3 linked regions of the Homo sapiens genome follow. The protein of the gene in region 3 interacts with the protein of the main gene of each other region in a pairwise test. Each region holds a gene or a part of one and is shown on either strand. Other genes may lie near its edges.

What was found. The genes of interacting proteins can lie anywhere in the genome.
Region 1: the proteins of KLHL8 (region 3) and TP53I13 interact in binary tests that used the Homo sapiens proteins (3 or more experiments, as listed by UniProt).
Region 2: the proteins of KLHL8 (region 3) and ARMC9 interact in binary tests that used the Homo sapiens proteins (3 or more experiments, as listed by UniProt).

Annotation. Positions count from the first base shown.
Region 1 is NC_000017.11:29,564,261-29,571,854, reverse strand, and holds the start of TP53I13 (tumor protein p53-inducible protein 13 isoform a precursor), read right to left. Parts: upstream 3,155-7,594; 5' UTR 3,097-3,154; coding exon 3,025-3,096; intron 2,838-3,024; coding exon 2,769-2,837; intron 2,538-2,768; coding exon 2,496-2,537; intron 2,382-2,495; exon of another isoform or gene 2,266-2,381; coding exon of another isoform or gene 2,230-2,265; intron 265-2,229; coding exon 136-264; intron 24-135; exon of another isoform or gene 1-23. Other genes in the region: protein ABHD15 precursor, read left to right, coding at 4,889-5,769.
Region 2 is NC_000002.12:231,369,527-231,376,784, reverse strand, and holds part of ARMC9 (lisH domain-containing protein ARMC9), read right to left. Parts: intron 6,833-7,258; coding exon 6,660-6,832; intron 5,273-6,659; coding exon 5,250-5,272; 3' UTR 1-5,249. UniProt on the Homo sapiens protein: Involved in ciliogenesis. It is required for appropriate acetylation and polyglutamylation of ciliary microtubules, and regulation of cilium length. Acts as a positive regulator of hedgehog (Hh)signaling.
Region 3 is NC_000004.12:87,161,619-87,168,876, forward strand, and holds part of KLHL8 (kelch-like protein 8), read right to left. Parts: intron 6,314-7,258; exon of another isoform or gene 5,228-6,313; intron 2,462-5,227; coding exon 2,260-2,461; intron 2,025-2,259; coding exon 1,901-2,024; 3' UTR 1-1,900. UniProt on the Homo sapiens protein: Substrate-specific adapter of a BCR (BTB-CUL3-RBX1) E3 ubiquitin ligase complex required for The BCR(KLHL8) ubiquitin ligase complex mediates ubiquitination and degradation of RAPSN.

The DNA of each region.
Region 1 (7,594 bases), on a different chromosome or scaffold from region 3:
ACGAGAGGAGGTAACTGTTAGAGCTACGAGGAAGGTGGGGACAAACAAGAGGAAACCCTTGAATTTTCCATTCCCTGCACACGGGGCCATAGCCTTCTGCCAGGGCCAGGCAAGCGCCTTTCATCAGCTACATACCCGATCCTGCGTGAGGCTGAAGTCAGGGGTGAGGGAAGGGTTAGCCATACAAGCATAGGCCAGGAGGGCAAGCTGGAGCTTCAGCCAGGGATGGGCACAGGGGTGGTAGAGGAAGGTGACATCCTCAGCCTGGAGGAAAGGCACAGAGACATCAAAGCAGGCCCAGAGCCCTCCCAGAGAATCTCAAGTTCTCCCATCCAGGGGACCAGTTTAAAGGTACTCCCAGGATAGCTGGATGGCTCTTCTACCTTCAGGGCCCAGGAAAGGACAAAGGGCCCTGGGTATTGGCATGTACCCACTCTTGCCTCTGAGTGTTCCTTTCACCCTTCCTCTCCATCAAGTGCCACCCTTCAAAGCTCACAGCATGCCTGGATAATCCTGCCAGACTCAGACCACACTCTAGCCATATTTCCCTGCAGGTGTAACGATGGCTCTACAGGTCCACAATCCAAGCCATAAGCAACCCCCAAATGAAGACCATCGATCCAATCTATACAGTCTCCCAAGAGCATCCAAATACAGGGCAGGCAGGCAGCAGGTGCACAATCTCAGGATGGAAATACTCCATCAATCATTCATTATTCTTTGATTGAGTTGACTTGGTGCTCAGTGCTGTGCTAGATGCTGTGGGAGATGCCAAAGAACTCCTGGACTCTGCTTGCAAGGAGTGTGTGAGAAACTCAGGGAAACAACTAATGCAAATAAAACAGCAAACTAATAAAACTTAGTGATTAGTTGTTAAATTATCAGAGATAGATTCAGAGGAGGAGGGGAGGAATAAAGGCTGATGCCATCGGGCAGTGTCTCAGGGGGAGCTGATGCCAGCTGGGACTGGGAAGATGGCTGGGGGAGTATGGCAGGAGGGCAGGGAGCTGCACTCTCCGAGTCAGGATAGGCCAGGTGTGGAGGAGAATAAACAGGAGCAAAGGGGCTGTGGTAAGGGCGAGGCTGGCACTCATTTGTGTGGCAAACAGCCCGACACAACTGGAGAGGAACCAAGGATGTGGAGAGGTCAGACGAAGCTTACTTAAGTAAGGCCTGAAAAGCCAGGCCGGAGAATATGGCCACGATAAGGTGGGAAATAAGGAGCCATTGACAGTTTGTGAACAGAGGAATGACTTCATGAAAGGGCTGTTTGAGGAAAGGAATCTGATAGGTGGCGTGAGGCAACAACTCTTGGCCTGGAGCTATTACAGAGAATTTTTTTTTTTTTTTGAGACAGTCTCGCTCTGTCGCCAGGCTGGAGTGCAGTGGCATGGTCTCGGCTCACTGCAACCTCTGCCTCCTGGGCTCAAGCAATTCTCCTGCCTCAGCCTCCCAAGTAGCTGGGATTACAGGGGTGTGCCACCACGCCCAGCTAATTTTTGTATTTTTAGTAGAGACAGGGTTTCACCATGTTGGCCAAGCTGGTCTTGAACTCCTGACCTCAGGTGTTCCACCCGCCTCAGCCTCCTAAAGTACTGGGATTACAGGTGTGAGCCACCATGCCTGGCCAATTTAAGTTAGGTATTTCAGGCCAGGCATGGTGGCTCACACCTGTAATCCCAGCACTTGGGAGGCTGAGGCAGGCAGATCACTTGAGGTCAGGAGCTCAAGACCAGCGTGGGCAACATGGTGAAACCTCGTCTCTACTAAAAATACAAAATTAGCTAAGCTAGGTGGCACACGCCTGTAATCCCAGCTGCTCGGGAGGCTGTGGCATAAGAATTGCTTGAACCTGGAGGCAGAGGTTGCAGTGAGTGCCACTGCACTCCAGCCTGGGCAACAGAGTGAGATTCCATTTCAAATAATAATAATAATAAGTATTTCAAAGGAAAATTCAGAGGAGCTGGCGATGAAGATGGAGATGCTACCACGCAAGCTGAGCCCGCAGTGTGGAGCCTGGCAACTGGAGGCACACTCCTTGCACGATGCAGCTCTGTACTGTACACGGTGCTGGCACATACCCTCCCTCGCTGCTCACAGGTAGAGACAGAATTAATACCCTCTCCTACAGAAAGCTGGGGCCCACAAAGTCAGGAGACTTCCCGCTGTCTCCTCAGGGAGCTGGAGCCTGGGTTTTTTCCAGCTACTCTCAGAGAGAGTTCCACTCACAGCCACTTGTCCACAGAGCCAGCTACCCAACAGCATCCTGACACAGCATTGCAGATGACAGGCCTATGGCTCACTGTCTTTGAGCCATCTGTCCTGGGGCTGATCTGTCCTGGGCTTGGAGGTGGGGCAGAGAACTAGAACCCTGCCTCTGCCTGAGGGAAGTGGTAAGGAATGGGGCCGATCAGCAGAACAGGCAGCGAAGCCTGCTAGGAGCGCCTGTCTCCAGGCGTGGACACCAAGGGTGGTGGGCCCCTGCTTGTACTCACCTGCCCTGGGCTCACTCGTGTGTAGGTCACTCTTGGTGACACCTATACATGGGGAAAGAACAGAGCTTAGGGCAGTTGGGGGACTCCGTGTGTGTGTGGTGGGGAGGGGACGGCAGGCCCCAAGCGCCAGGCTGGGATGGAGAAGTTGGCTACTGAGGACTGAGGAACCGGCAGAGGTCCTCAGATGGTGACTGTGGAGGGTGCGGCGAGAACAGAGCGGGACTGGGCTAGCCTTTCACATCCCTCTCTCCCTGGGCCCTCCAGGGCTCCTACCTGCGGAGGCAGAGGCCACAGGCTCTCGGGACAATGGGCTCCCGCCTCCTCCGCCGGTCCAGCCATCACCTGTGGGTCCAAAGCGAAGAGTTGGGGCGCTGGACGCGGCGAGGCCCTGCCCTCTCTCTCCCCAGGCCCAGCCCGCCAGCGGAAGAACTCCGCGTCCCCCTCGGCGCGCCACTCCTTCCAGGACGAACTTTTGGCAAAGCGCTTTGAGCTCGCGGGCCGAGGCCTTCCCAGGAGCGGGTCACCTTACCTCGCTGGGACCCAGGAGCCTCGCGAGGGCTGCCAGGAGAAGCAGTTGGGGCGAAGGCGGAGGAGGCGCCATTCCAAGCGGCCCCGGGCCCGGCCCGCCGCCCAGCCGCTCCGCCAGCGAGGGAGCGCGCGCGCCCCGCCCCTCCAGCCCCAGCGCCCCCGCGCCGCCCGCGCCGCCCGCGCGTCCGTTGGCCCTGGGCTCGCGCGCGCCCCTCCCCAGACAGTGGGCCCCCGGTATCGCCCCGCCCCAATGCCCGCCCACAGCAGCGGAGTGTGCGCGCACGCGTCTTAAACCCGAAGCCGGAAAAGTTAAGTGTAGGAACCGGGTCAGCGCGCAAGGCTCAGTAGGGCAGGCGGGGGGCCCCTTTCCTCGTCCGGGGATTCGTCTCAGCAGGTCCCTGCAGTCTGTAGAGCAGCTGCACAGCTGCAGCGCCTGGATGAGATCGTGGAGCGGAGTGTAAGGCCGGAAATGGAATCCCTGTGGACCGGGTGGCCCAGGCTGGGGAGACGGGTACACTCCCCTGGCAAACCCGCTTCAGATTTGTCGGTGTGACCTGCAATGAGAAGAGGGGCAGAATCATGAAGTCAGGAAGAGCTGCTGAAGGGAGAGGGTCCCACCTCTGGAGCTTCGCCGTCGGCCCACCCCGCTCCCGCCCTCGCAAATAGGGTCCAACGCGGAGGAGCCTCGGGAGGTGTCTCCGCTCCCCAAACTCTCCAAACCCAGAAGCCCCGGGAGGCCGGAGCTAGCCGAGAGGCTGCTGTCTTCCCCACCTCCGCCGTCGCCCAGCGGTGGCAGGCGCGCGTCTAGAAAGAGATTGGTCGCCGCGAGATGGGGACGCCACAGGCCTCACCCCCAGGAGGTGCGCTGGCCGGCCCGCCCCGCAGCGGGGCGCTGGTTCTGGTTCCCTCTCCAGGATTTGGGGGGGAAACGTGGGTAGAGAGCGAGGGTCGAGATGCCTATCCCAAAGCTTGGAAACAGCGAGAACGTGTTATTTCCGTGGTCTCCCATGCACCCCGGTTTACGAGGCGTTCCTTGTAGGTCGGACGGGCATCCCTGTCGCAGGGCGCCTGAGTGTGTCCTTTTCTCCGACTGACTCTCGGAGGCTTGGGGCTGCTGTTTCTGGGGAAGCCACTCCCGGGCTGAGGATTTCCTTGATGTGGAGCCCCGAGCTCGCGGGGACGGGGGCGAGGAGTCCACGGGACCCGCACTGATGCAGGCGGGGAAGCAGCAGCCTCCCGCCAGCGGCTCAAGACGCCGCGCTCGACCTCTCTAGCCCAGTGCCGGACCCCGCCCAGCCAAGTTATTGCGGGGTTGCGGGGCCGGGCGGGGGAGAGCAGGGCCGCCCGAGGGCAGAGCGCGCGCGCGGCCGCCGCCCCACGGGGTCCCGGGAGCCGGCGCCCGGAGCTGCGACTTACTCACCTCTCCCTTCTGCTTCTTTTCATCGGCCTCTGAGGGCGCAGCGCCCAGGGTCTGGCGGAAGACCCTGATGACAGTCGGGTCCCCAAGCCTCGGCCTCCAGTCTCCCCACGTCTCCATGGCCAACACCGCTCTCCCCGGCTCGTGCCCTCCCCACTCCCTTCCGGCTGCCGGCGCGCCCTCCCTCCCTGGTGGCCCCGGCTCCTCTCACCCTCTGCTCCCACTTGTTGCAATTGCTGTACAAAGGGCCGGGGCGGGGGTGGGGGGCGGGCGAGGGCAGCCGGGCCCGAACTGGCTGCCTCTGCCCGGCCACGGCCAATCCAGAGCGCGCCCGCGCGGGAGGGCCCTGGGCAGCCGCCGCCGGCGGGCGGAGCCGCGGGCAAAGCGCGGAGCTCGCCGAGTAGACGGCCCCGCCGCCCGCTGCCCGCCGGGGCTCTCCAGCTTCGCCATGCCGCCGTGGGGCGCCGCCCTCGCGCTCATCTTGGCCGTGCTCGCCCTTCTCGGCCTGCTCGGCCCGCGGCTCCGGGGACCCTGGGGGCGCGCCGTCGGAGAGAGGACCCTGCCGGGGGCCCAAGACCGAGACGACGGGGAGGAGGCGGACGGCGGAGGCCCGGCGGACCAGTTCAGCGACGGGCGCGAGCCACTGCCGGGAGGGTGCAGCCTTGTTTGCAAGCCGTCGGCCCTGGCCCAGTGCCTGCTGCGCGCCCTGCGGCGCTCAGAGGCGCTGGAGGCCGGCCCGCGCTCCTGGTTCTCCGGGCCCCACCTGCAGACCCTCTGCCACTTCGTCCTGCCCGTAGCGCCTGGGCCTGAGCTGGCCCGGGAGTACCTGCAGTTGGCGGACGATGGGCTAGTGGCCCTGGACTGGGTGGTAGGACCTTGTGTTCGGGGCCGCCGGATCACCAGCGCCGGGGGCCTTCCTGCGGTGCTTCTGGTGATCCCCAATGCGTGGGGTCGCCTCACCCGCAACGTGCTCGGCCTTTGCTTGCTCGCCCTGGAGCGCGGCTACTACCCGGTCATCTTCCATCGCCGCGGCCACCACGGTTGCCCACTGGTCAGCCCCCGGCTGCAGCCTTTCGGGGACCCGTCCGACCTCAAGGAGGCGGTCACATACATCCGCTTCCGACACCCGGCGGCGCCGCTGTTCGCGGTGAGCGAAGGCTCGGGCTCGGCGCTGCTCCTGTCCTACCTGGGCGAGTGCGGCTCCTCCAGCTACGTGACAGGCGCCGCCTGCATCTCGCCCGTGCTGCGCTGCCGAGAGTGGTTCGAGGCCGGCCTGCCCTGGCCCTACGAGCGGGGCTTTCTGCTCCACCAGAAGATCGCCCTCAGCAGGTGGGTAACGGAGGCCGCAGACCAGCATGGAAAGAATAGAGGGCCTGAGCTGGCTAAGAATCAGAAACAGCTATGCATAGCATTGGAACAGGCGTGGGCCAGTTTGGGCAAAGTTCTCTGAACACATCTTCCAAAGCCTTCCAAACCCTGTAATCTAGACAGAACCGGGGAAGCGGGTTTAAAGGTCATCGATGGACTCAGCTAGTATCGCTGTGCTAGAGCAGGGACTCCTAACCCGGCCCCTTGCCTCATCTCGGCACCCCCTGCTGTATCCTAGCAATCTGAGCACCTGGCCCACGACAGCAGAGATACCTGACATTTACCACTTAGCCCACAGCTTAACAGCTCAGCAAAGAGCACTCTGGAAGCAATTGCAAACGATTATCTGCCCAGAATGTTTACTCACAGTCTCTGAGCCTGGAGGTGACAGGAATCAGAAATATGGTGGCATTTGAGGCCAGGTGCAGTGGCTCCCGCCTGTAATCCCAGCACTTTGGGAGGCCAAGGCAGGAGGATCACTTGAGCCCAAGAGTTTGAGACTAACTTGGGCAACATAGGAAAACCTGTCTCTACAAAAATTTCTTTTTTTAATTAGCCGGGTGTGGTGGCATGCATCTGTGGTCCCAGCTACTCAGGAGGTTGAGATGGGAGGATCACCGAAGCCCAGAAGTTCGAGGCTGCAGAGAGCCCTGGTCAGGCCACTGCACTCTAGCCTGGGTGACAGAGCAACACCCTGTCTCAAAAAAAAATGTTATATATATATATACACACACACGCATATATGTAGGCATTTATTAAAATTATTATTTTTTAAAAGTATTTTTTTTTTTAGACAGTCTCACTTTGTCACCCAGGCTGAAGTGTAGTGACATGATCTCGGCTCACTGTAACCTCCACCTCCTGGGTGCAAGCTATTCTCCTGCCTTAGCCTCTGAAGTGGCTGGGGACTACAGGCGTGCACCACCACACCCAGCTAATTTTTAATATTTTTTTTGGTAGAGACGGGGTTTCTCCATGTTTGCCAGGCTGGTCTGGAACCCCTAATGTCAAGTGATCCGCCTGCCCCAGCTTTCAAAGTGCTAGGATTACAGGTGTGAGCCACCGTGCCCAGCTGTTTGTTTGTTTTTTGAGGCAAGATCTTACTCTGTCGCCCAGGCTGGAGTGCAGTGGTGGAATCACCACTCATTGCAGCCTTGAGTTCCTGGGCTCAGGTGACATTCCTAGCCTGCACTCTGGCTTTCTTAGGAGATGGCAGAATGAGGTCGAAGTCATTATGGCAACAGTGTGGTGTAGCAGAAAGACCTGGGATGTGGGGGCCAGACCCCCACCTCAGCCTCCCGAGTAGCTGAGACTACAGGCACATGCCACCATGCCCGGTTAATTTTTGTATTTTTCATAAAGATGGGATTGTGCCATGTTGTCCAGGCTGGTCTTGAATGTCTAGACTCAGGGAATCCACCCGCCTTGGCCTCCCAAAGTGCTGGGATTATAGATGTGAGCCACTATGCCTGGTCAGAGATTAACATCTAATTTCAACTGTCTGAGGCTGGATTGAGCTATTCAAAAGACGGAGCTGCTCATCCTGGCCTCCTTGTCAGGATGCCAAGCCCTCTCCAGGGGTCTAGAAACAGCAAAGATGTTCCCTGTTACCCAAAGCAGTTGCTCTGAGGCCCCCATTTAGGAATCCACCCAGTAAATTAATGACCAACTCAATTGCTTCCTCTGCCAGGCAGCACACTCTCTAGGAATATCTGCCCCAGGTATACCTGATCAACATCACACTCATGTGACATTACCAGGACAGGATGTTAGTTTAAAAAGCAAA
Region 2 (7,258 bases), on a different chromosome or scaffold from region 3:
AGCCACAAAAACCAGCAAGTTTTTATTAGGGATTTTCAAAAGGGGAGGGAGTGTGCGAATAGGTGTGGGTGACAGACATCAAGTACTTAACAGGGTAATAGAATATCACAAGGCAAGTGGAGGCAGGGCGAGATCACAGGACCACAGGACCAAGGCAAAATTAAAATTGCTAATGAAGTTTTGGGCACCATTGTCATTGATAACATCTTATCAGGAGACAGGGTTTGAGAGCAACCGGTCTGACCAAAATTTATTAGGCGGGAATTTCCTCCTCCTAATAAGCCTGGGAGCGCTATGGGAGACTGGAGTTTATTTCATCTCTGCAGCCTCGACCATAAGAGACGACCACGCCCCCGGGGGAGGGGGGCCAGTTCAGAGACCCACCCCCAGGTGTGCATTCTCTTTCTCAGGGGATGTTCCATGCTGAGAAAAAGAATTCAGCGATATTTCTCCCATTTGCTTTTGAAAGAAGAGAAATATGGCTCTGTTCCGCCCGACTCACCAGTGGTCAGAGTTTAAGGTTATCTCTCTTATTCCCTGAACAATTGCTGTTACCCTGTTCTTTTTTCAAGGTGCTCAGATTTCATATTGCGCAAACACACATGCTGTACAATTTGTGCAGTTAATGCAATTATTACAGGGTCCTGAGGCAACATACATCCCCCTCAGCTGACAGGATTAAGAGATTAAAGTAAAGACAGGCATAGGAAATCACAAGGGTATTGACTGGGGAAGTGATAAGTGTCCATGAAATATTCACAACTTATGTTTAGAGACTGTAGTAAAGACAGGCATAAGAAATTACAAAAGTATTAATTTGGGGGAACTAATAAATGTCCATGAAATCATCACAATCCACGTTCTTCTGTCATGGCTTCAGCCAGTCCCTCCGTTTGGGGTCCCTGACTTCCCACAACACCTGCTGTCTTCTTTCTCACCCCCGGGTTCTGTCCCCAGTTTCCTATTTCTCTAGTCCCCCTTCTGAGATCCCATCCACCCCCAGGCTTTAGTAGACACCTTAAGATGACGACTCTGGATAGGGCTCTGTAGCCCTGACTTTTTGCTAATTTTGCAACCATTTCCTAGAAACCTGCCTGATGTTTCAACCTGGGGCTGGTGCTCCGGCCTGGACCATGCCATCCGAAAAGGCCAGAAATTCTCCCTAGAAGATGGATGGCAACTTGAAAGCCAGTGGGACCATGTCTCCACATCTGACACACTGCAGCCCCAAAGAATATATTTGTTCAATTGAATCTAAATGGAGAGGGTATACCACAATGGAAAAACAGCCCTAAAAGATTTGGTCCTGCAAAGCTCTGAACAGCATCTATGTGGTAGCTTGCAGCAGTATTGCCTCTGGTTCATTCGGGGTCCCTGTATCCACATCCTTTCACACAGACTTGGGCCTTGGCCATGTGGTCTGCTTTGGACAATGGGAGAATAGTGAACGTGATATGAGACTTGGGCTTGATTTCTCTAACTGCCATGGGAGCCCCGAGGCCACCATGTGAACAAGCCTAAGCCAGAGGAGAACCAAGGGCTCAGCCAACAGCCAACTACCAGACATGAGCGAAGCCCCTGACTGCCCTCTGACCATAAGACATAGTTGAGTTCAGCCAAGCCCAGCAGAAGAATCGCCTGTCCGTGCCCAGCCCCCATCACTGATCCAAATCATTATAAAGCTAATACATTTGTTGGTTTAAGCCACTAAGTTTCAGAGGTAGTTTGTTAATATGCAAAAGCTAACCTAATCACTTCTTAGAACAGCACACCCCAAATAGTATCTGGAGAGATAAAGCTAGGCAAACAGGCACACCACCAGCCCCAGGCTGTGCTATCAGGCACTGTGGGAGGGACAGGAGGATCCCCCAGATTCTAGGCCAGGAGAGAGGGGTGAGGTATTCACCTTGCATACAAAATTTAAAGGGCTACCCCAAAACTCAGTAATGAAGACACATGATGTAATATTTTAATGTAATATTTAAAAAAAATCAAATTGGTATCTCTGGTCCACGTCCCAGCTGCCTATTTTGTAAATACAGTTTTATTAAAACTGGGGCTGGGATTAGGGTTAGACAAGCCAGGTGGGGTCATCCAAGTACAGGGCCAGACTTGTTTTTATTAAAAAGTTTGATATTTTATCATGGATTTCTTTTCTTTACCTTTTCTTTCTTTTCTTTTTTTTTCATGAACCTTATTTGTTCAACTATTTTATTTTTATTTTTATTTTATTATTTTTTTTTTAGCTCTTTTGATTTGGGCCAAATCTTTCCTCACCTATTGACTAATCTCTGGCATCTCACTGGATCTCAAACCTCCACCTGCCTATTAAAGTCCCCACCACAGGTCCTAATTTAAGCTCTTGCCAGACAGTTCCACCTTGCTGTGAATGCAGAAATGAGATCAAGTCCCACTCAGAAGAAACCAGAAGATGTGAGGTAACCAGAGGGGCGGCTCAGCCTCCAGGGCAGAGGAGCCATAATCTACCTGGGGCCTTACCATTTTCCAGAAGGTCCAAAGATCCCTCTCTGTGGCTTCCTTGGTAGTTTTCAAGGGCAAACCTTAGGCGCCATCTGCTTGGATCTCCATCTGGAGATCTGGCCTTTAAACAGGTTTACTTGTGTTTTAGATTCTTTCCCCTTAGACTGGGGTCATACCCATCCTCAGCAAGCTCATTGGAGCTGGTAGATAGTTGGAATATTTGTGAATAAGTTGTTGGTATTTTACAAAGTATATTTCTAGCTGTCAGCCTTGGAATGCAGAGGCGTGAGCCCAGGAGTGTACTCTCCCAGGGCGTGGCGCAGAGGCCTGGGTGATATTTTCAGCACTTTCCTGGAAGAACCACACATACCCCACCTGGTAATCTCAATGTATTTTTTTTTTTTTTTTGACGGAGTCTCTGTCGCCCAGGCTGGAGTGCAGGGGCGTGATCTTGGCTCACTGCATCTTCCATCTCCCGGTTCAAGCTATTCTTGTGCCTCAGCCTCCTTGAGTAGCTGAGATTACAGGCACCCACCACCACATCCAGCTAATTTTTTGTATTTTAGTAGAGACGGGGTTTCGCCATGTTGGCCAGGCTGGTCTCGAACTCCTGGAGGCCTCAAGTGATCCATCCGCCTCGGCCTCCCAAAGCACTGGGATTACAGGTGTGAGCCACTGTGCCCGGCCTAATCTCAGTGTATTTTGACCCTAAGTTGGATACTCCCCACTTCTCTAAAAGACTATCTTTTCTTCTCCTCAAACCATCAGACATCTACAGATCAGACTTTAGCTCTTTGGTAGGCTTGAGGGAAAAGTAGTGGTTGACTTCAGACGAGGGAGACACTGACCTGACCCCGATGATTCTCCCACCCCCGCTGGACTTCTGCTGCTCCCACACCAAGGGCGGGAAAGGCTGTGCCAGCCAGTGGCATCTGAGGAATCCGTAGGGGAGTGGACTTCTTGTGGGGAGCAAGAGAGATTTTTCCATTCCACTCCTTTGCTGTTTGTCTGCAACCACTCTACACCTTTTCAAAGTCTCACCACGGAGGAGTTGCATTTTGCGGACCCTCTGCTTTTCCTCTGTCTGCACCACTGACACCAGGGGCGAGCTTTGTGTTTGCTCCCAATGCCTCCGGGTCAAGTGAGGAGTTCAGAGAGGGCCTGGTGGCTGACAGGTCAGGACGGCAGCCTTCTTCCCTGAGCACAGAGTGGACACATTTCCAGAGAACCAAGAGGTGGCCACCAGGCCAGTCACATGACAGCATCTAATGTGCCCAGCCTGGAGCCGCTGCCAAGAATTCACGAGATGAACCAGGGTCCCGGCCCTGGATGAGCTTCTGGTCATCTCATGGGTAACCTGGCCTCCTGTTTACCTCCTCTGCCTGCGCTCCTGAGGAGTCAGGGGGCCATGGAAAAATCCAGCGCTTAGCCTTTATTTACGACCATTGGGACCAGAGATGTCCCCATTGAAGGGTCTGTGGGCAGATCAGGTGCCTGGGGGAGGGCACGCGACTTTTCTCTGCTTTCCATTTCCCTTCATACACTCATACACACACACACACACACACACACACACACACACACACACACACACACACACACACCACTAAATACTGATGGGTTTTATTTGATTTTAGAGCTTGGGTAACATCCAGGACACCTGTGACTTGCTGGTCCTGAAGGCAAACATCCTTCCTCTGTCCTAAGACTGGATTCTGATGACAGCCCTGGTGAGGGGCGTGCGCAGGCCTCCCCCGCGGGATGGGTCACTTTGCTGGTAGAGCTGTTTATGTTTATGGTCCCAGTGCAGGGAGGGAGGCAGAGGGTGCTCCCTGGTCACACTGGTGGCCTTTTTAAGGCCTTCAAAAAACGTGTGCAGAAGAGCAGAGCTTTGAAGAGGCTGGAACACACCATATTCTCAGAATTTTTTTTTTGGGGACGGAGTCTCGCTCTGTCACCCAGGCTAGAGTGCAGTGGCACGATCTCGGCTCACTGCAAGCTCCGCCTCCCGGGTTCACGCCATTCTCCTGCCTCAGCCTCCAGAGTAGCTGGGACTACAAGCGCCCGCCACCACGCCCGGCTAATTTTTTTGTATTTTTTTAGTAGAGACGGGGTTTCACCACGTTAGCCAGGATGGTCTCGATCTCCTGACCTCGTGATCTGCCCGCCTCAGCCTTCCAAAGTCCTGGAATTACAGGCGTGAGCCACCGCACCTGGCCTTCTTTCTCAGATTTTAACACAGGAAGAAAACACCAACTTTGCTGCTGAGACGCAGGCTTGAGAATAAAATGAGCTTCACCCTGAGTTCCTTCTGGGTCCTGGTAGTCAGCCCAAGTGAGGAGGGCTGGCTTCAGCAGCCTTGGAAAAGCCCTGCTCCAGGCTGGCCCTACACTGTCGCCCTGTTGGGGCCTGGAGGGCCAGGGCTGCAAATCCAGCACCTGCTGTTTCTGGGGCCAGAAGATCTCCTGCGGGCAAAAGCCACCCCTCTCCTCTGTGTGTGAAGGGTGAGCAGGAAATTCCCCTCTCCAGGAGGGCAATGCCAGGCTCTCCCCAGCCCTCCTTGGTGGCTCTGCCCTGGGAGAAAGTGACCCGGCTGGCGGGGCTGCGATGGCCTTGCTCTGGTGCTGCCTGGAGAGCCGGCCTCCCCTCAGCTCCCAGAGTCTTGTGGACAACTGTCCCTTCACATCCATCACCGGCAGCTGCTGCCAGCTGAGAGCGGGAAGCTGGCTGGTCCTCCGGCAACGTGATGGGGACACCCGGGGACATCCTTACTTCCTGTGAGACTGGCTGCCTGGAGAGAAAAGCCAGAGCAAGATGCCAGTGCTGTGTGGTCTCCGCACAGAATCCCCTCTGTCCCACTCAGTCCCTCTTTCAGCCGGCTCAGAAGCGAGGGAACCTTCCCTCTCCCAGGTCACCTGTTCTGTGGCCTGGGCTCGACTGGCGGGCCGGCTCTTTCCTCACAGGAAGCAGGCTGCTTGGTGCGGGTCACTCAGTCAGCTTTGCTGGCAACAGCTCACGTGTTTGTTGAGCCCACAGGACACACAACGCCCATGGCTGGCTGAGCTGTCCACACCGTGGCCACGCTATGCTGCTAGATGTGGGGCCAGGCCAGCCACCAGCTGCTGGTGTCACTGTTGCTATGACTGGGGATCCCTGCCCCAGTGGCACCTTCCTCCTGGCCGAGCCTCCCCTGGATTTGCTGCACCTCCTCTGCGCCTGACCTGGGCTGCGACTGGCTGGGCTGGGGTTTTGGGTGTGTTTCCCAGTGGGAAGTGGGAGGGGTCCCAACCTGGCTCCCCAGCCATGGCCATTACCCCCACTTCCAACCCAGCGTGTCCCCAGCTGACCAGAGCGCCCAGGGCCTGGCCAGGAAGGTAGTAGGGTGGGGCGGGCTGGGGGCGGCCAAAGAAATGCGCATATCCTAAGCGGGACTCCTTTCGTCCTGCCTGGCCTTTTGTTCTGTCCTTTTGTTTTCCCTGTGTTTTGGTAAAGCCCTCTAGAAAGGTTCAGCTCAGTTGGGGCGTGGAGGTGGAGGGGCTATCAATTGGCAGAGGCTGGAAGGGGACAGAGAAAGACAAAGAAGTGGTCCTTACAGTGAGCCTCAGGTGAGAGGGTGAGAGAGAGGCCCCAGGGAGAGAGTGGGGGCCCTTGGGCCCATCCCATCTTCAGGCCCTTCTGGCGGCCCCTCCATCCAGCCTGCGAGCAGACACCCGCTTCTGTTTGACCTGGGGGTGGCCTGACCGAGGCTGGGCCAGGCAGGGACACAGTGGCTGAACCAGGGGCTGGACCACCTCCCACCAGGGCAGGTCCGAGTTTCAGGGCCAACCCCGGGGCAGCAGGGCCAGCTCAGGGCCAACTCTGTGAGCTCCACAGAGGGAAGTGGGGAGGGGCTTCTCTCTCAGTGACCTGCCTGGAGGTCTCACTCCTCAGCTTGAGTTTGAGTCACTGAGGCCAAAGGGAATTTAATAGGAAGGAAGATTCATGCAGAACCGGTCCCTGGAGGAAAGGAAGCCACCTGCTGGGGCCTGGTTGTGTGGGGAAGGGAAGCAGGCCTTCTGCCCTTCTGGCCTGGCCTGGTACACACAGGAGCACGGGGCCAAATATAGCAGCAAAATGCCCTTCCCTGCAGGTTGGCGGGTGGCCAGGCTCCCACGCCAGTGGGGCCCAGGCTGACTTACTCGGCAGGCCCCTTGTGGAGGACGCTGTGGAGCCGGGGCGGCTGGCCTGCTGGGGGCCACACGAAGAGAACAGAGGGGCCAGAACTGACGCCTTTGCCTTGGGTGGGTTCCAGTCCAGCATCTCTGGAGTGCAGGGGGCCCGGGGCTTGCAGGTGAAGGCTGATGCACATTCCCTAGAACAAAACGTGCAACCTGGAGTCCCAGCTACTACAGCATTAGAAACCACAGGAGGGGCCGGGTGTGGTGGCTCCCGCCTATAATCCCAGCACTCTGAGAGGCCAAGGCGGACAAATCACCTGAAGTCAGGAGTTAGAGACCAGCCTGGCCAACATGGTGAAGCCCCGTCACTACTAAAAATTCAAAAATTAGCCGGGCGCGGTGGCGGGCACCTGTAATTCCAGCTCCTCAGGAGGCTGAGGCAGGAGAACCGCTTGAACCTGGGAGGAGGTTGCAGTGAGCCAAGACGGCACTGTTGCACTCCAGCCTGGGCGACAAGAGCAAAATTCTGTCTCAAAAAAAAAAAAAAAGAAACTGGCTGAGCATGGTGGCTCACGCCTGTAATCCAACACTTTGGGAGGCCGAGGCGGGCGGATCACCTG
Region 3 (7,258 bases):
TATTAGTAACCATAGCTAAACAAACACTGTAATATAAGAACTCCATTAGACATAAGAAATAGACATTGAAGCCAGGTTTTGACACTTATTCTCCACATCCAGCCAGTTGTCACCAGTCTAGTAAGTGCTACAGGGTTAACTGCCTCTGGACTGACTGAAATATGGTTGTACTTACACAAAAGAACACTGGTTCAGATCCAGCAATGACTTATGAACTTGCCCATAGGTAGAAAAAAATAGCTTACTGGATTTATATCTGCTTCATAAGAGACTTTTATCTGCCAGCCTGACCCCTCTTAAAACTTTTTTTTTTCTTTTTTGGTTTGATATACTCAATAGGCACTGGCTTTTTTTTGTGATGTGGCTTTTTTTGTGATGTGGCTTTCCACACTATTGTAGAAGTCCAGAATCCCATTTAATAAGATGCATGAGCTATTAGTCAATGAACTTTAGGGCTGGATGGATCAACGAAGTGTTTTTCACTGCCCCAGCTTCCTTATGAACCAGATTACTGACCAGCGGTGAACTACAATAAATTCGAAGACACAACTAACAAAAACTTAGGAAGGCCTGGAAGAGAGGTGCCAAACTGCACTGCAAATACAAAATAAAATATTTTCATGTTCTTGATAAATATTTATAAAAAAATATACATATAATGAATAGGCCATTTTATAATGCTAGTTAAAACTTTGAAGAGCTGTTAAATCTGTAGGTCCATCAATATCCTGGCTTCAAATCAATATGTAGAAATATTTTTAATTAAATTTCAATAAATACACCAGAGGGATTTAAATATGATAAAAACAGTAATTTCAATCTCTGTTTTTACCAACAATATGTTTAATTAGTTCGTGATGGGCTTGAACTAATCAATAAACTACAGTCTACAAAAAGGTTTTTGTAAAAATGCATTCATTTCTGATAATAAATAAATGCAGATTGATTCTGTACAGTCAGAAAAACCAGGATGGTGGCAAATAGCAAAATAGAGAGATGATAAATCTTGGATCCAAAATCAAATGATCAAAGAAGACAGTTAAAGATATTTTCAGACTGCCCACATTAGAGTCATGTAATCTGCATCATTCTTTCTCAAGGTCTCTCAATTGGGCACCAGAATAACATCAGATCTAAAACCTTGTTCAATATTTCCTCTGGTTCACCTTTTGATTATGTAACAAATACTTTTTGCAAAAGATGAAAAAATAAAACTGTAAAATCATTTGGATGGAGTTAGCCCAGCTAGGTCTTTTGGTGTCCTAGCAATTCAAACTGAAATTAAAGGCTTCTTATAGCCTATAAGCTTCTGAAAATGCAGCTAAGTGGCATTCAAAAAGACAGAACATTTTTTCTACTTCCGTAAATATAAAAGAAATTGAAAAATCACCACCTAGAAAAAAAAAGCTAGGCATAAATTCATCAGCACCAAGTAGAAATGATCTTCAAAAGGGGCAAGTCTCTTATGTATCCTTGTGTTAATGAATAGGTACTAATCTCTCCTCTAGGAAAAACCCACTGCCTGACGTTAACATCTTTAGGCAAAAGAAAAGGCAAAACTCAACAAATTACATTTTGATTCATCCAAATAGAGAGAGAGAGAGAGATTTCAAGATTTTTGGCACTACTTTAAGCATTTTTCAGGGTAGGTATGATTTTAAGTTCGACTATCTTCTTCCCTACTCCATTATTTGCAAAAGCAGGAAGTATCAAATTTAACTCTATTACTAATAATTCTTCAGGTATCATTCCAAAAGTTGTACTTAGTCACAATACAACAGTTAACATTTAAATAAGACTCTAGTTGCAGTAAAAAGTGTTGAAAGGTGGTCATATCAAAATCTTGGTTTTCTTTTGTACCTATCAGATATGACTAAATTGTTGGTGGCCAGAACTCAAATCACATACAGTCAACCACATTATTGGATCCATGACCTACATCTCGAATTTGGCTAGTTAAACAGGAACACACAGCTACTCCTGCTCCAGCTCTGCAGTGAGACACAGATCCAACAAGCTCCCACCTGAAAAGACGGAGAAGAAAAAATGTTACAAAGCATAATTTACTTTACTCAAAATACTAACCAAAGACAAAAATTCCCTATGTGAGACTGGTTTTGTAGGACAGCAAGCTTCCAGTGGGAGATAAGATATCCCAAAGCTTAGTATTAACTACGACTAGCAACATTTTAACACTCTGAAGTAATCTACTATTATACCAGAAGATAATATAAAGCACGGAGACAACATGTAAATTACCTATTCAGCACTGGATCAAACGCTTCTACTGTATTTAAGTATGCATTGCCATTATGACCACCAACTGCAAAGATTTTGCCCATCACTGTTGCGATTCCCACTCCACCTCTGGGAGTAGTAAGTGCTGCCACATAATCCCACTTGTTGCTTCGGGGGTCATACCGCTCAACTGAACTCAGAGGAGAATTATCATCAAAACCACCTATGTAAAGAAATATTTTAAAAACAGCATTACATTCCTTAGAAATTAACTACTAAATTTCAATTCAATGGCTTTTACAACCCAATCTTTTAAAATCATTTTAGAATGGTTTAGAGAAAATTTTTTTAAAAAATTCATCCCAATACCTGTCTACCACCACCAACAACTACCATTAGATGTTGTCTACAATTCCACGTTAGGTAAGTGACATTTTCCTCAATACTAGGATTAAAGATCTTGTAAGTAGGAAAAAAATGGAGTCCCTGTATCTAAGCAGATAATTCAGAGAAAAAGAAAAAAAAAACACAAACATTCATAAATTTGTCCTTAGCCGTCTAGAGACAAGCAAGACAGTACTGAGATTCCTTCTCTGTGTATTATATCTTAAACAGTAAGAAGGCATAAGAAAGGAATAAACTGAATCATGATTCATCCAGATAAAAGTTAAAGTTTTCCAATTGTTTCCCTTAATACTATAATCGCCATCATAATTACAGAAATGGTGGACTATGACTGAATTCTCACCAATTTTTGTCATAACAACATTTTCCTCCTACATATTCCAGAAGATAGCAGTCCTTTCTATAGCTCATTCTAGCAATGTACTTAATCTGTTCCTGAGGTTATAGAGACTGTTATTTCAACAGTGCTCCTTCCTTTAAAAACAAGTGTCTCTTTTTGAGCTCCAAGTCTAAATGAATATAATAGCTTTCTTTGGTGACAGCCTAATTTACTGAGAATAGAAAGTATTGATATTATGATCAATCTATATAAAAACAAGGTCAGAGGCCGGGCGCGGTGGCTCACGCCTGTAATCCCAGCACTTTGGGAGGCCAAGGGGGGCCGATCACGAGGTCAGGAGATCGAGACCATCCTGGCTAACACGGTGAAACCCCGTCTCTACTAAAAATACAAAAAAATTAGCTGGGCATGGTGGCGGGCGCCTGTAGTCCCAGCTACTCGGGAGGCTGAGGCAGGACAATGGCGTGAACCTGGGAGGCGGACGCTTGCAGTGAGCCGAGATTGTGCCACTGCACTCCAGCCTGGGCGACAGAGCAAGACTCTGTCTCAAAAAAAAAAAAAAAAAAAAAAAAGGTCAGAAAAAAAAATTCAAGTCAACCTCTCTAATGGGTTTAATTTTATTAAATCAATTAAAATGAAATTCACCAATTTTATCTGCATTCTTTCCATGAATTCTGACAAATGTATAGTGTCATTACCATTACAACCATTATATAAAACATTTTTTCATTATAATAAAGGGTTTGGTTTTAATTATTGCTCATGCTAATGTAGATTAAGGGTTTTTTTAAATTTTTGTTTTGTTTTGTTTTGAGACAGGGTCTGACTGTTGCCCAGACTGAAGTGCAGTAACACAATCACAGCTCACTGCACTCTCAACCTCCTGGGCTCAAGCGATCCTCCCACCTCAGCCTCCTAAGTAGCTGGAACTATAGGCATATGCCACCACTCCTGGCTAATTTTTTTTTTTTTTAAATAGAGATGAGGTCTCAACTATGTTGCTCAGTCTGGTTTTGAACTCCTGGCCTCAAGTGATCCTCCTGCCTCAGCCTCCCAAAGTGCTGGGATTACAGGGGTAATCCCTGCACCTGGCCAAGTTTTTGATAGCTATATTTTCCATAGTCTTCTTTTTCACTAGTTCCCTATCATTTCCCCAGATAATGCATAAAAATGTATTATAACAAAGAATTCAAACCAGGGATAGAAAAAGCAAAATGCAATTAGGATGTTAGACATGCCCACACCTTCAATTTTTTCTTATTCAAATCAGTTGTACCTGTTTTAAGTAGAACCTGAATGACCAAGAAGATTTTTTTAATGTTCAACCTGAATCATTCTTATTTTTACCATGTCTATTCTAATTATAAGGGTCCAAAAGATTTAAAAAGTAACAGCAACAATGTTATTCCTGTCGACATATAACACATGTCAATGCCTGTGGTAGACAGGGAGCTGTGAGAGGTAGCAATGATGTAACATAAGAACTTTGGATTCACAGATCCAAGTTCAAATTCCAGCTTTGCCACTTATTTATGCATGTGAACATGAGTAAATTATTCATTCTCTCTGAGTCTCTTGACTACATTACAGAGCTGTTGTGATAATCAGGCAAGATGTAGAGGTAAATTATGTTACTTCCCCTCTTCTTTAATACACATGAGCACTGAAAGATTCAGCATTACTTCTGCTACTTATAAGAGAATGCTGTATTGTTAGCATATAAATATCTATAAGAAATATGTTAAGTAACACAAACAATTTACATCAACATATATAAGCAAATGTGACCTTTGCTAGTGACAACCTCTCTGAATTCATTTCCTCCTCTATAAAGGAAGGTATTACTAATCACAATATAGCTAATCATGTACTGGGGAACTACAAAGTGCCGGAAACACTTTGAGATGCTTAACATGTATTATCTCTTATTCTTAAAATGATTCTGAAAGATAGACATTATTCCCGTTTCATAATCATTTAAAGCCTTGCTACTGGAAGTGTGTTGTGTGAACCTGAAACTGCATCACTATAACTTGAGAACTGTTTGAAACACAGAAACTAGGCCCCTCCTTTGCAATATAACAAGATCTCCAGATTATTCATATGCACATTATGGTCTGAGAAATCACTGATCTAATGTTCCTCCCAACTCTGCAATTCAGTAAGTCAAAAAGCAATATAGATCAATTACTGAACACTACAGCCAGGGCAAGCCTTGCAGTCCCCAAGTGGTGTGCATTCGTTCCCACAGCCCCACCAGGAAGCAACGTGCCTGCAGCCCTGAGCCGGATGACCTGGGGACCAGCAGGGCAGCCATGGTGAGGAGAGTGAGGATGCGGGGGCCGCTCCTGCCAAGAAGGCCCCGGCCAGATAAGACAAGCCCAAGACGCTGCCCTTCTTGCTGCTGGGCAGTTGGTCAGTATCCAGAGCAACGAGGCTGTGGCCCTACTCAAGACTCATGGCCTGTAACATGTCCATGGGCTTTGGTGAGAGTTGGAAGAAGCACCTCAATGGAATTCGGGAAACGTTATTTTATCAAGATAAAAGGATTTGTCGCAGAAGAAAGGAAACATTACACTGTTTATCCACCCCCACACTAAGTCTTCACCTGGACCCAGATGTGTGACATAAGAGATGTGAAGGTTGTCATCCCAGGACAGGACCCATATTAGAGACCGAATCAAGTTCATGGGCTGCTTTAGTGTTCAAAGACCTGTTCCACCTCTGCCTGGTTTGGAAAACATTTATAAAGAGCCATCTACAGATATGGTTTTATTCATCCTGGTCATGGAGATTTATCTGGGTGGGCCAAATAAGGTGTTCTCCTACTCCAGGCTGTCCTCACTGTTCTGCCCCATCAAGCCAATTTTCATAAGGAAAGAGGAGGCTGGGAGCAATTTACCAATGCGGTTGTGTCCTGGCTAAATCAGAACTCGAATGGCCTTGTCTTTCTGCTCTGGGGCTGTTATGCTAAGAAGAAGGGCAGTGCCATCCACAGGAAGCAGCACCATGTGCTGCAGATGGCTCATTCCTTCCCGTGTACAGAGGGTTCTTTGGATGTAGACAATTTTCTAAGACCAATGAGCTCCTGCAGATGTCTAGCAAGAAGCCCACTGACTGGAAGGAGCTATGATCCTGAGCTGAGGAGTAGTCTGTCTCCATTGGTGGTTATTGGGAAGCTGTTGTTAAAGTATTTGTCACTTACAAAATCAAACTGAAAAATTTCCTATTAATTCTTAAATACTCTGCATAAGGGGTAAAGCTTCCATAAAGCAGCCATGAACCAGGTTGCCCAGAAATGGCAGCTTTATATAGCCACACATAGCAAAGACTATCCTTTGGCCAAATGTCTCTACAACATGGCTTCAGCCTAAAATATGCTAACTTCTCAGAAGACAGATGAAGTCAAATGCTCACTTGGCTCTCTTTACCCCACACCCCGCCCCCCGCCTTACCTTTATGGTTAAAGGGGGAAGATATATACCCTTTAGGTAGAACCATAGTTTGATGCCTGCTGTTACTTGGTTTTGCCTAGTTAGACTTTCAACTACAAGGTATTTTAGGGGGTGTTTTTGTGTAGAAAGGCCCCCTTTTCCCAGCCTGGCAGGCATTCCAGTCTCTGCCAAGTACACTTATACTCCCTTGATCTTTCAAGGGGCCTTCAGGTCCTTCCTTGAGGGAACTATGAGGGTTTTGCAGGTTTCTAGAAATCTGGCCGTGAAATTAGGGCTCAATTTTCTGATTGTAGTAAAGGTGAAGACTCCTAAGGAACAGCGCTTGGTGTTGGCCTTAACAGACAGACAAGGGCTGAGGGATGTGAACTGAGTCTTGTTATTCTTTCGGCGTTTTGTGGAATAAGCAGTGAAATTTAGACAAGAAAGAATAGAAAAGAGAATTCTTCTTTAATGGGGGGAGGTGATTTTCTCCTAGGGTTATCCTGAGTTGGGGTTTTTAAGATAGCACAAACTGCTGCATGCTGTTTTTTATGGACTGAAATCAATTTATAATATTTTTTTCTGCAACACTGGAGATTTTTATTTTTTAAAAGATATATATATGTATATATATGTGTGTATATATGTGTGTATATATATACGTATATATATGTGTATATATATACGTATATATATGTGTGTATATATACGTGTATATATGTGTGTGTATATATATGTGTATATATATACGTATATATACACACATATATATACACACACATATATATATATCCTTCTTTTTTAAGACACAATCTTTATTGGGTCTGTACCTTCATCCTTG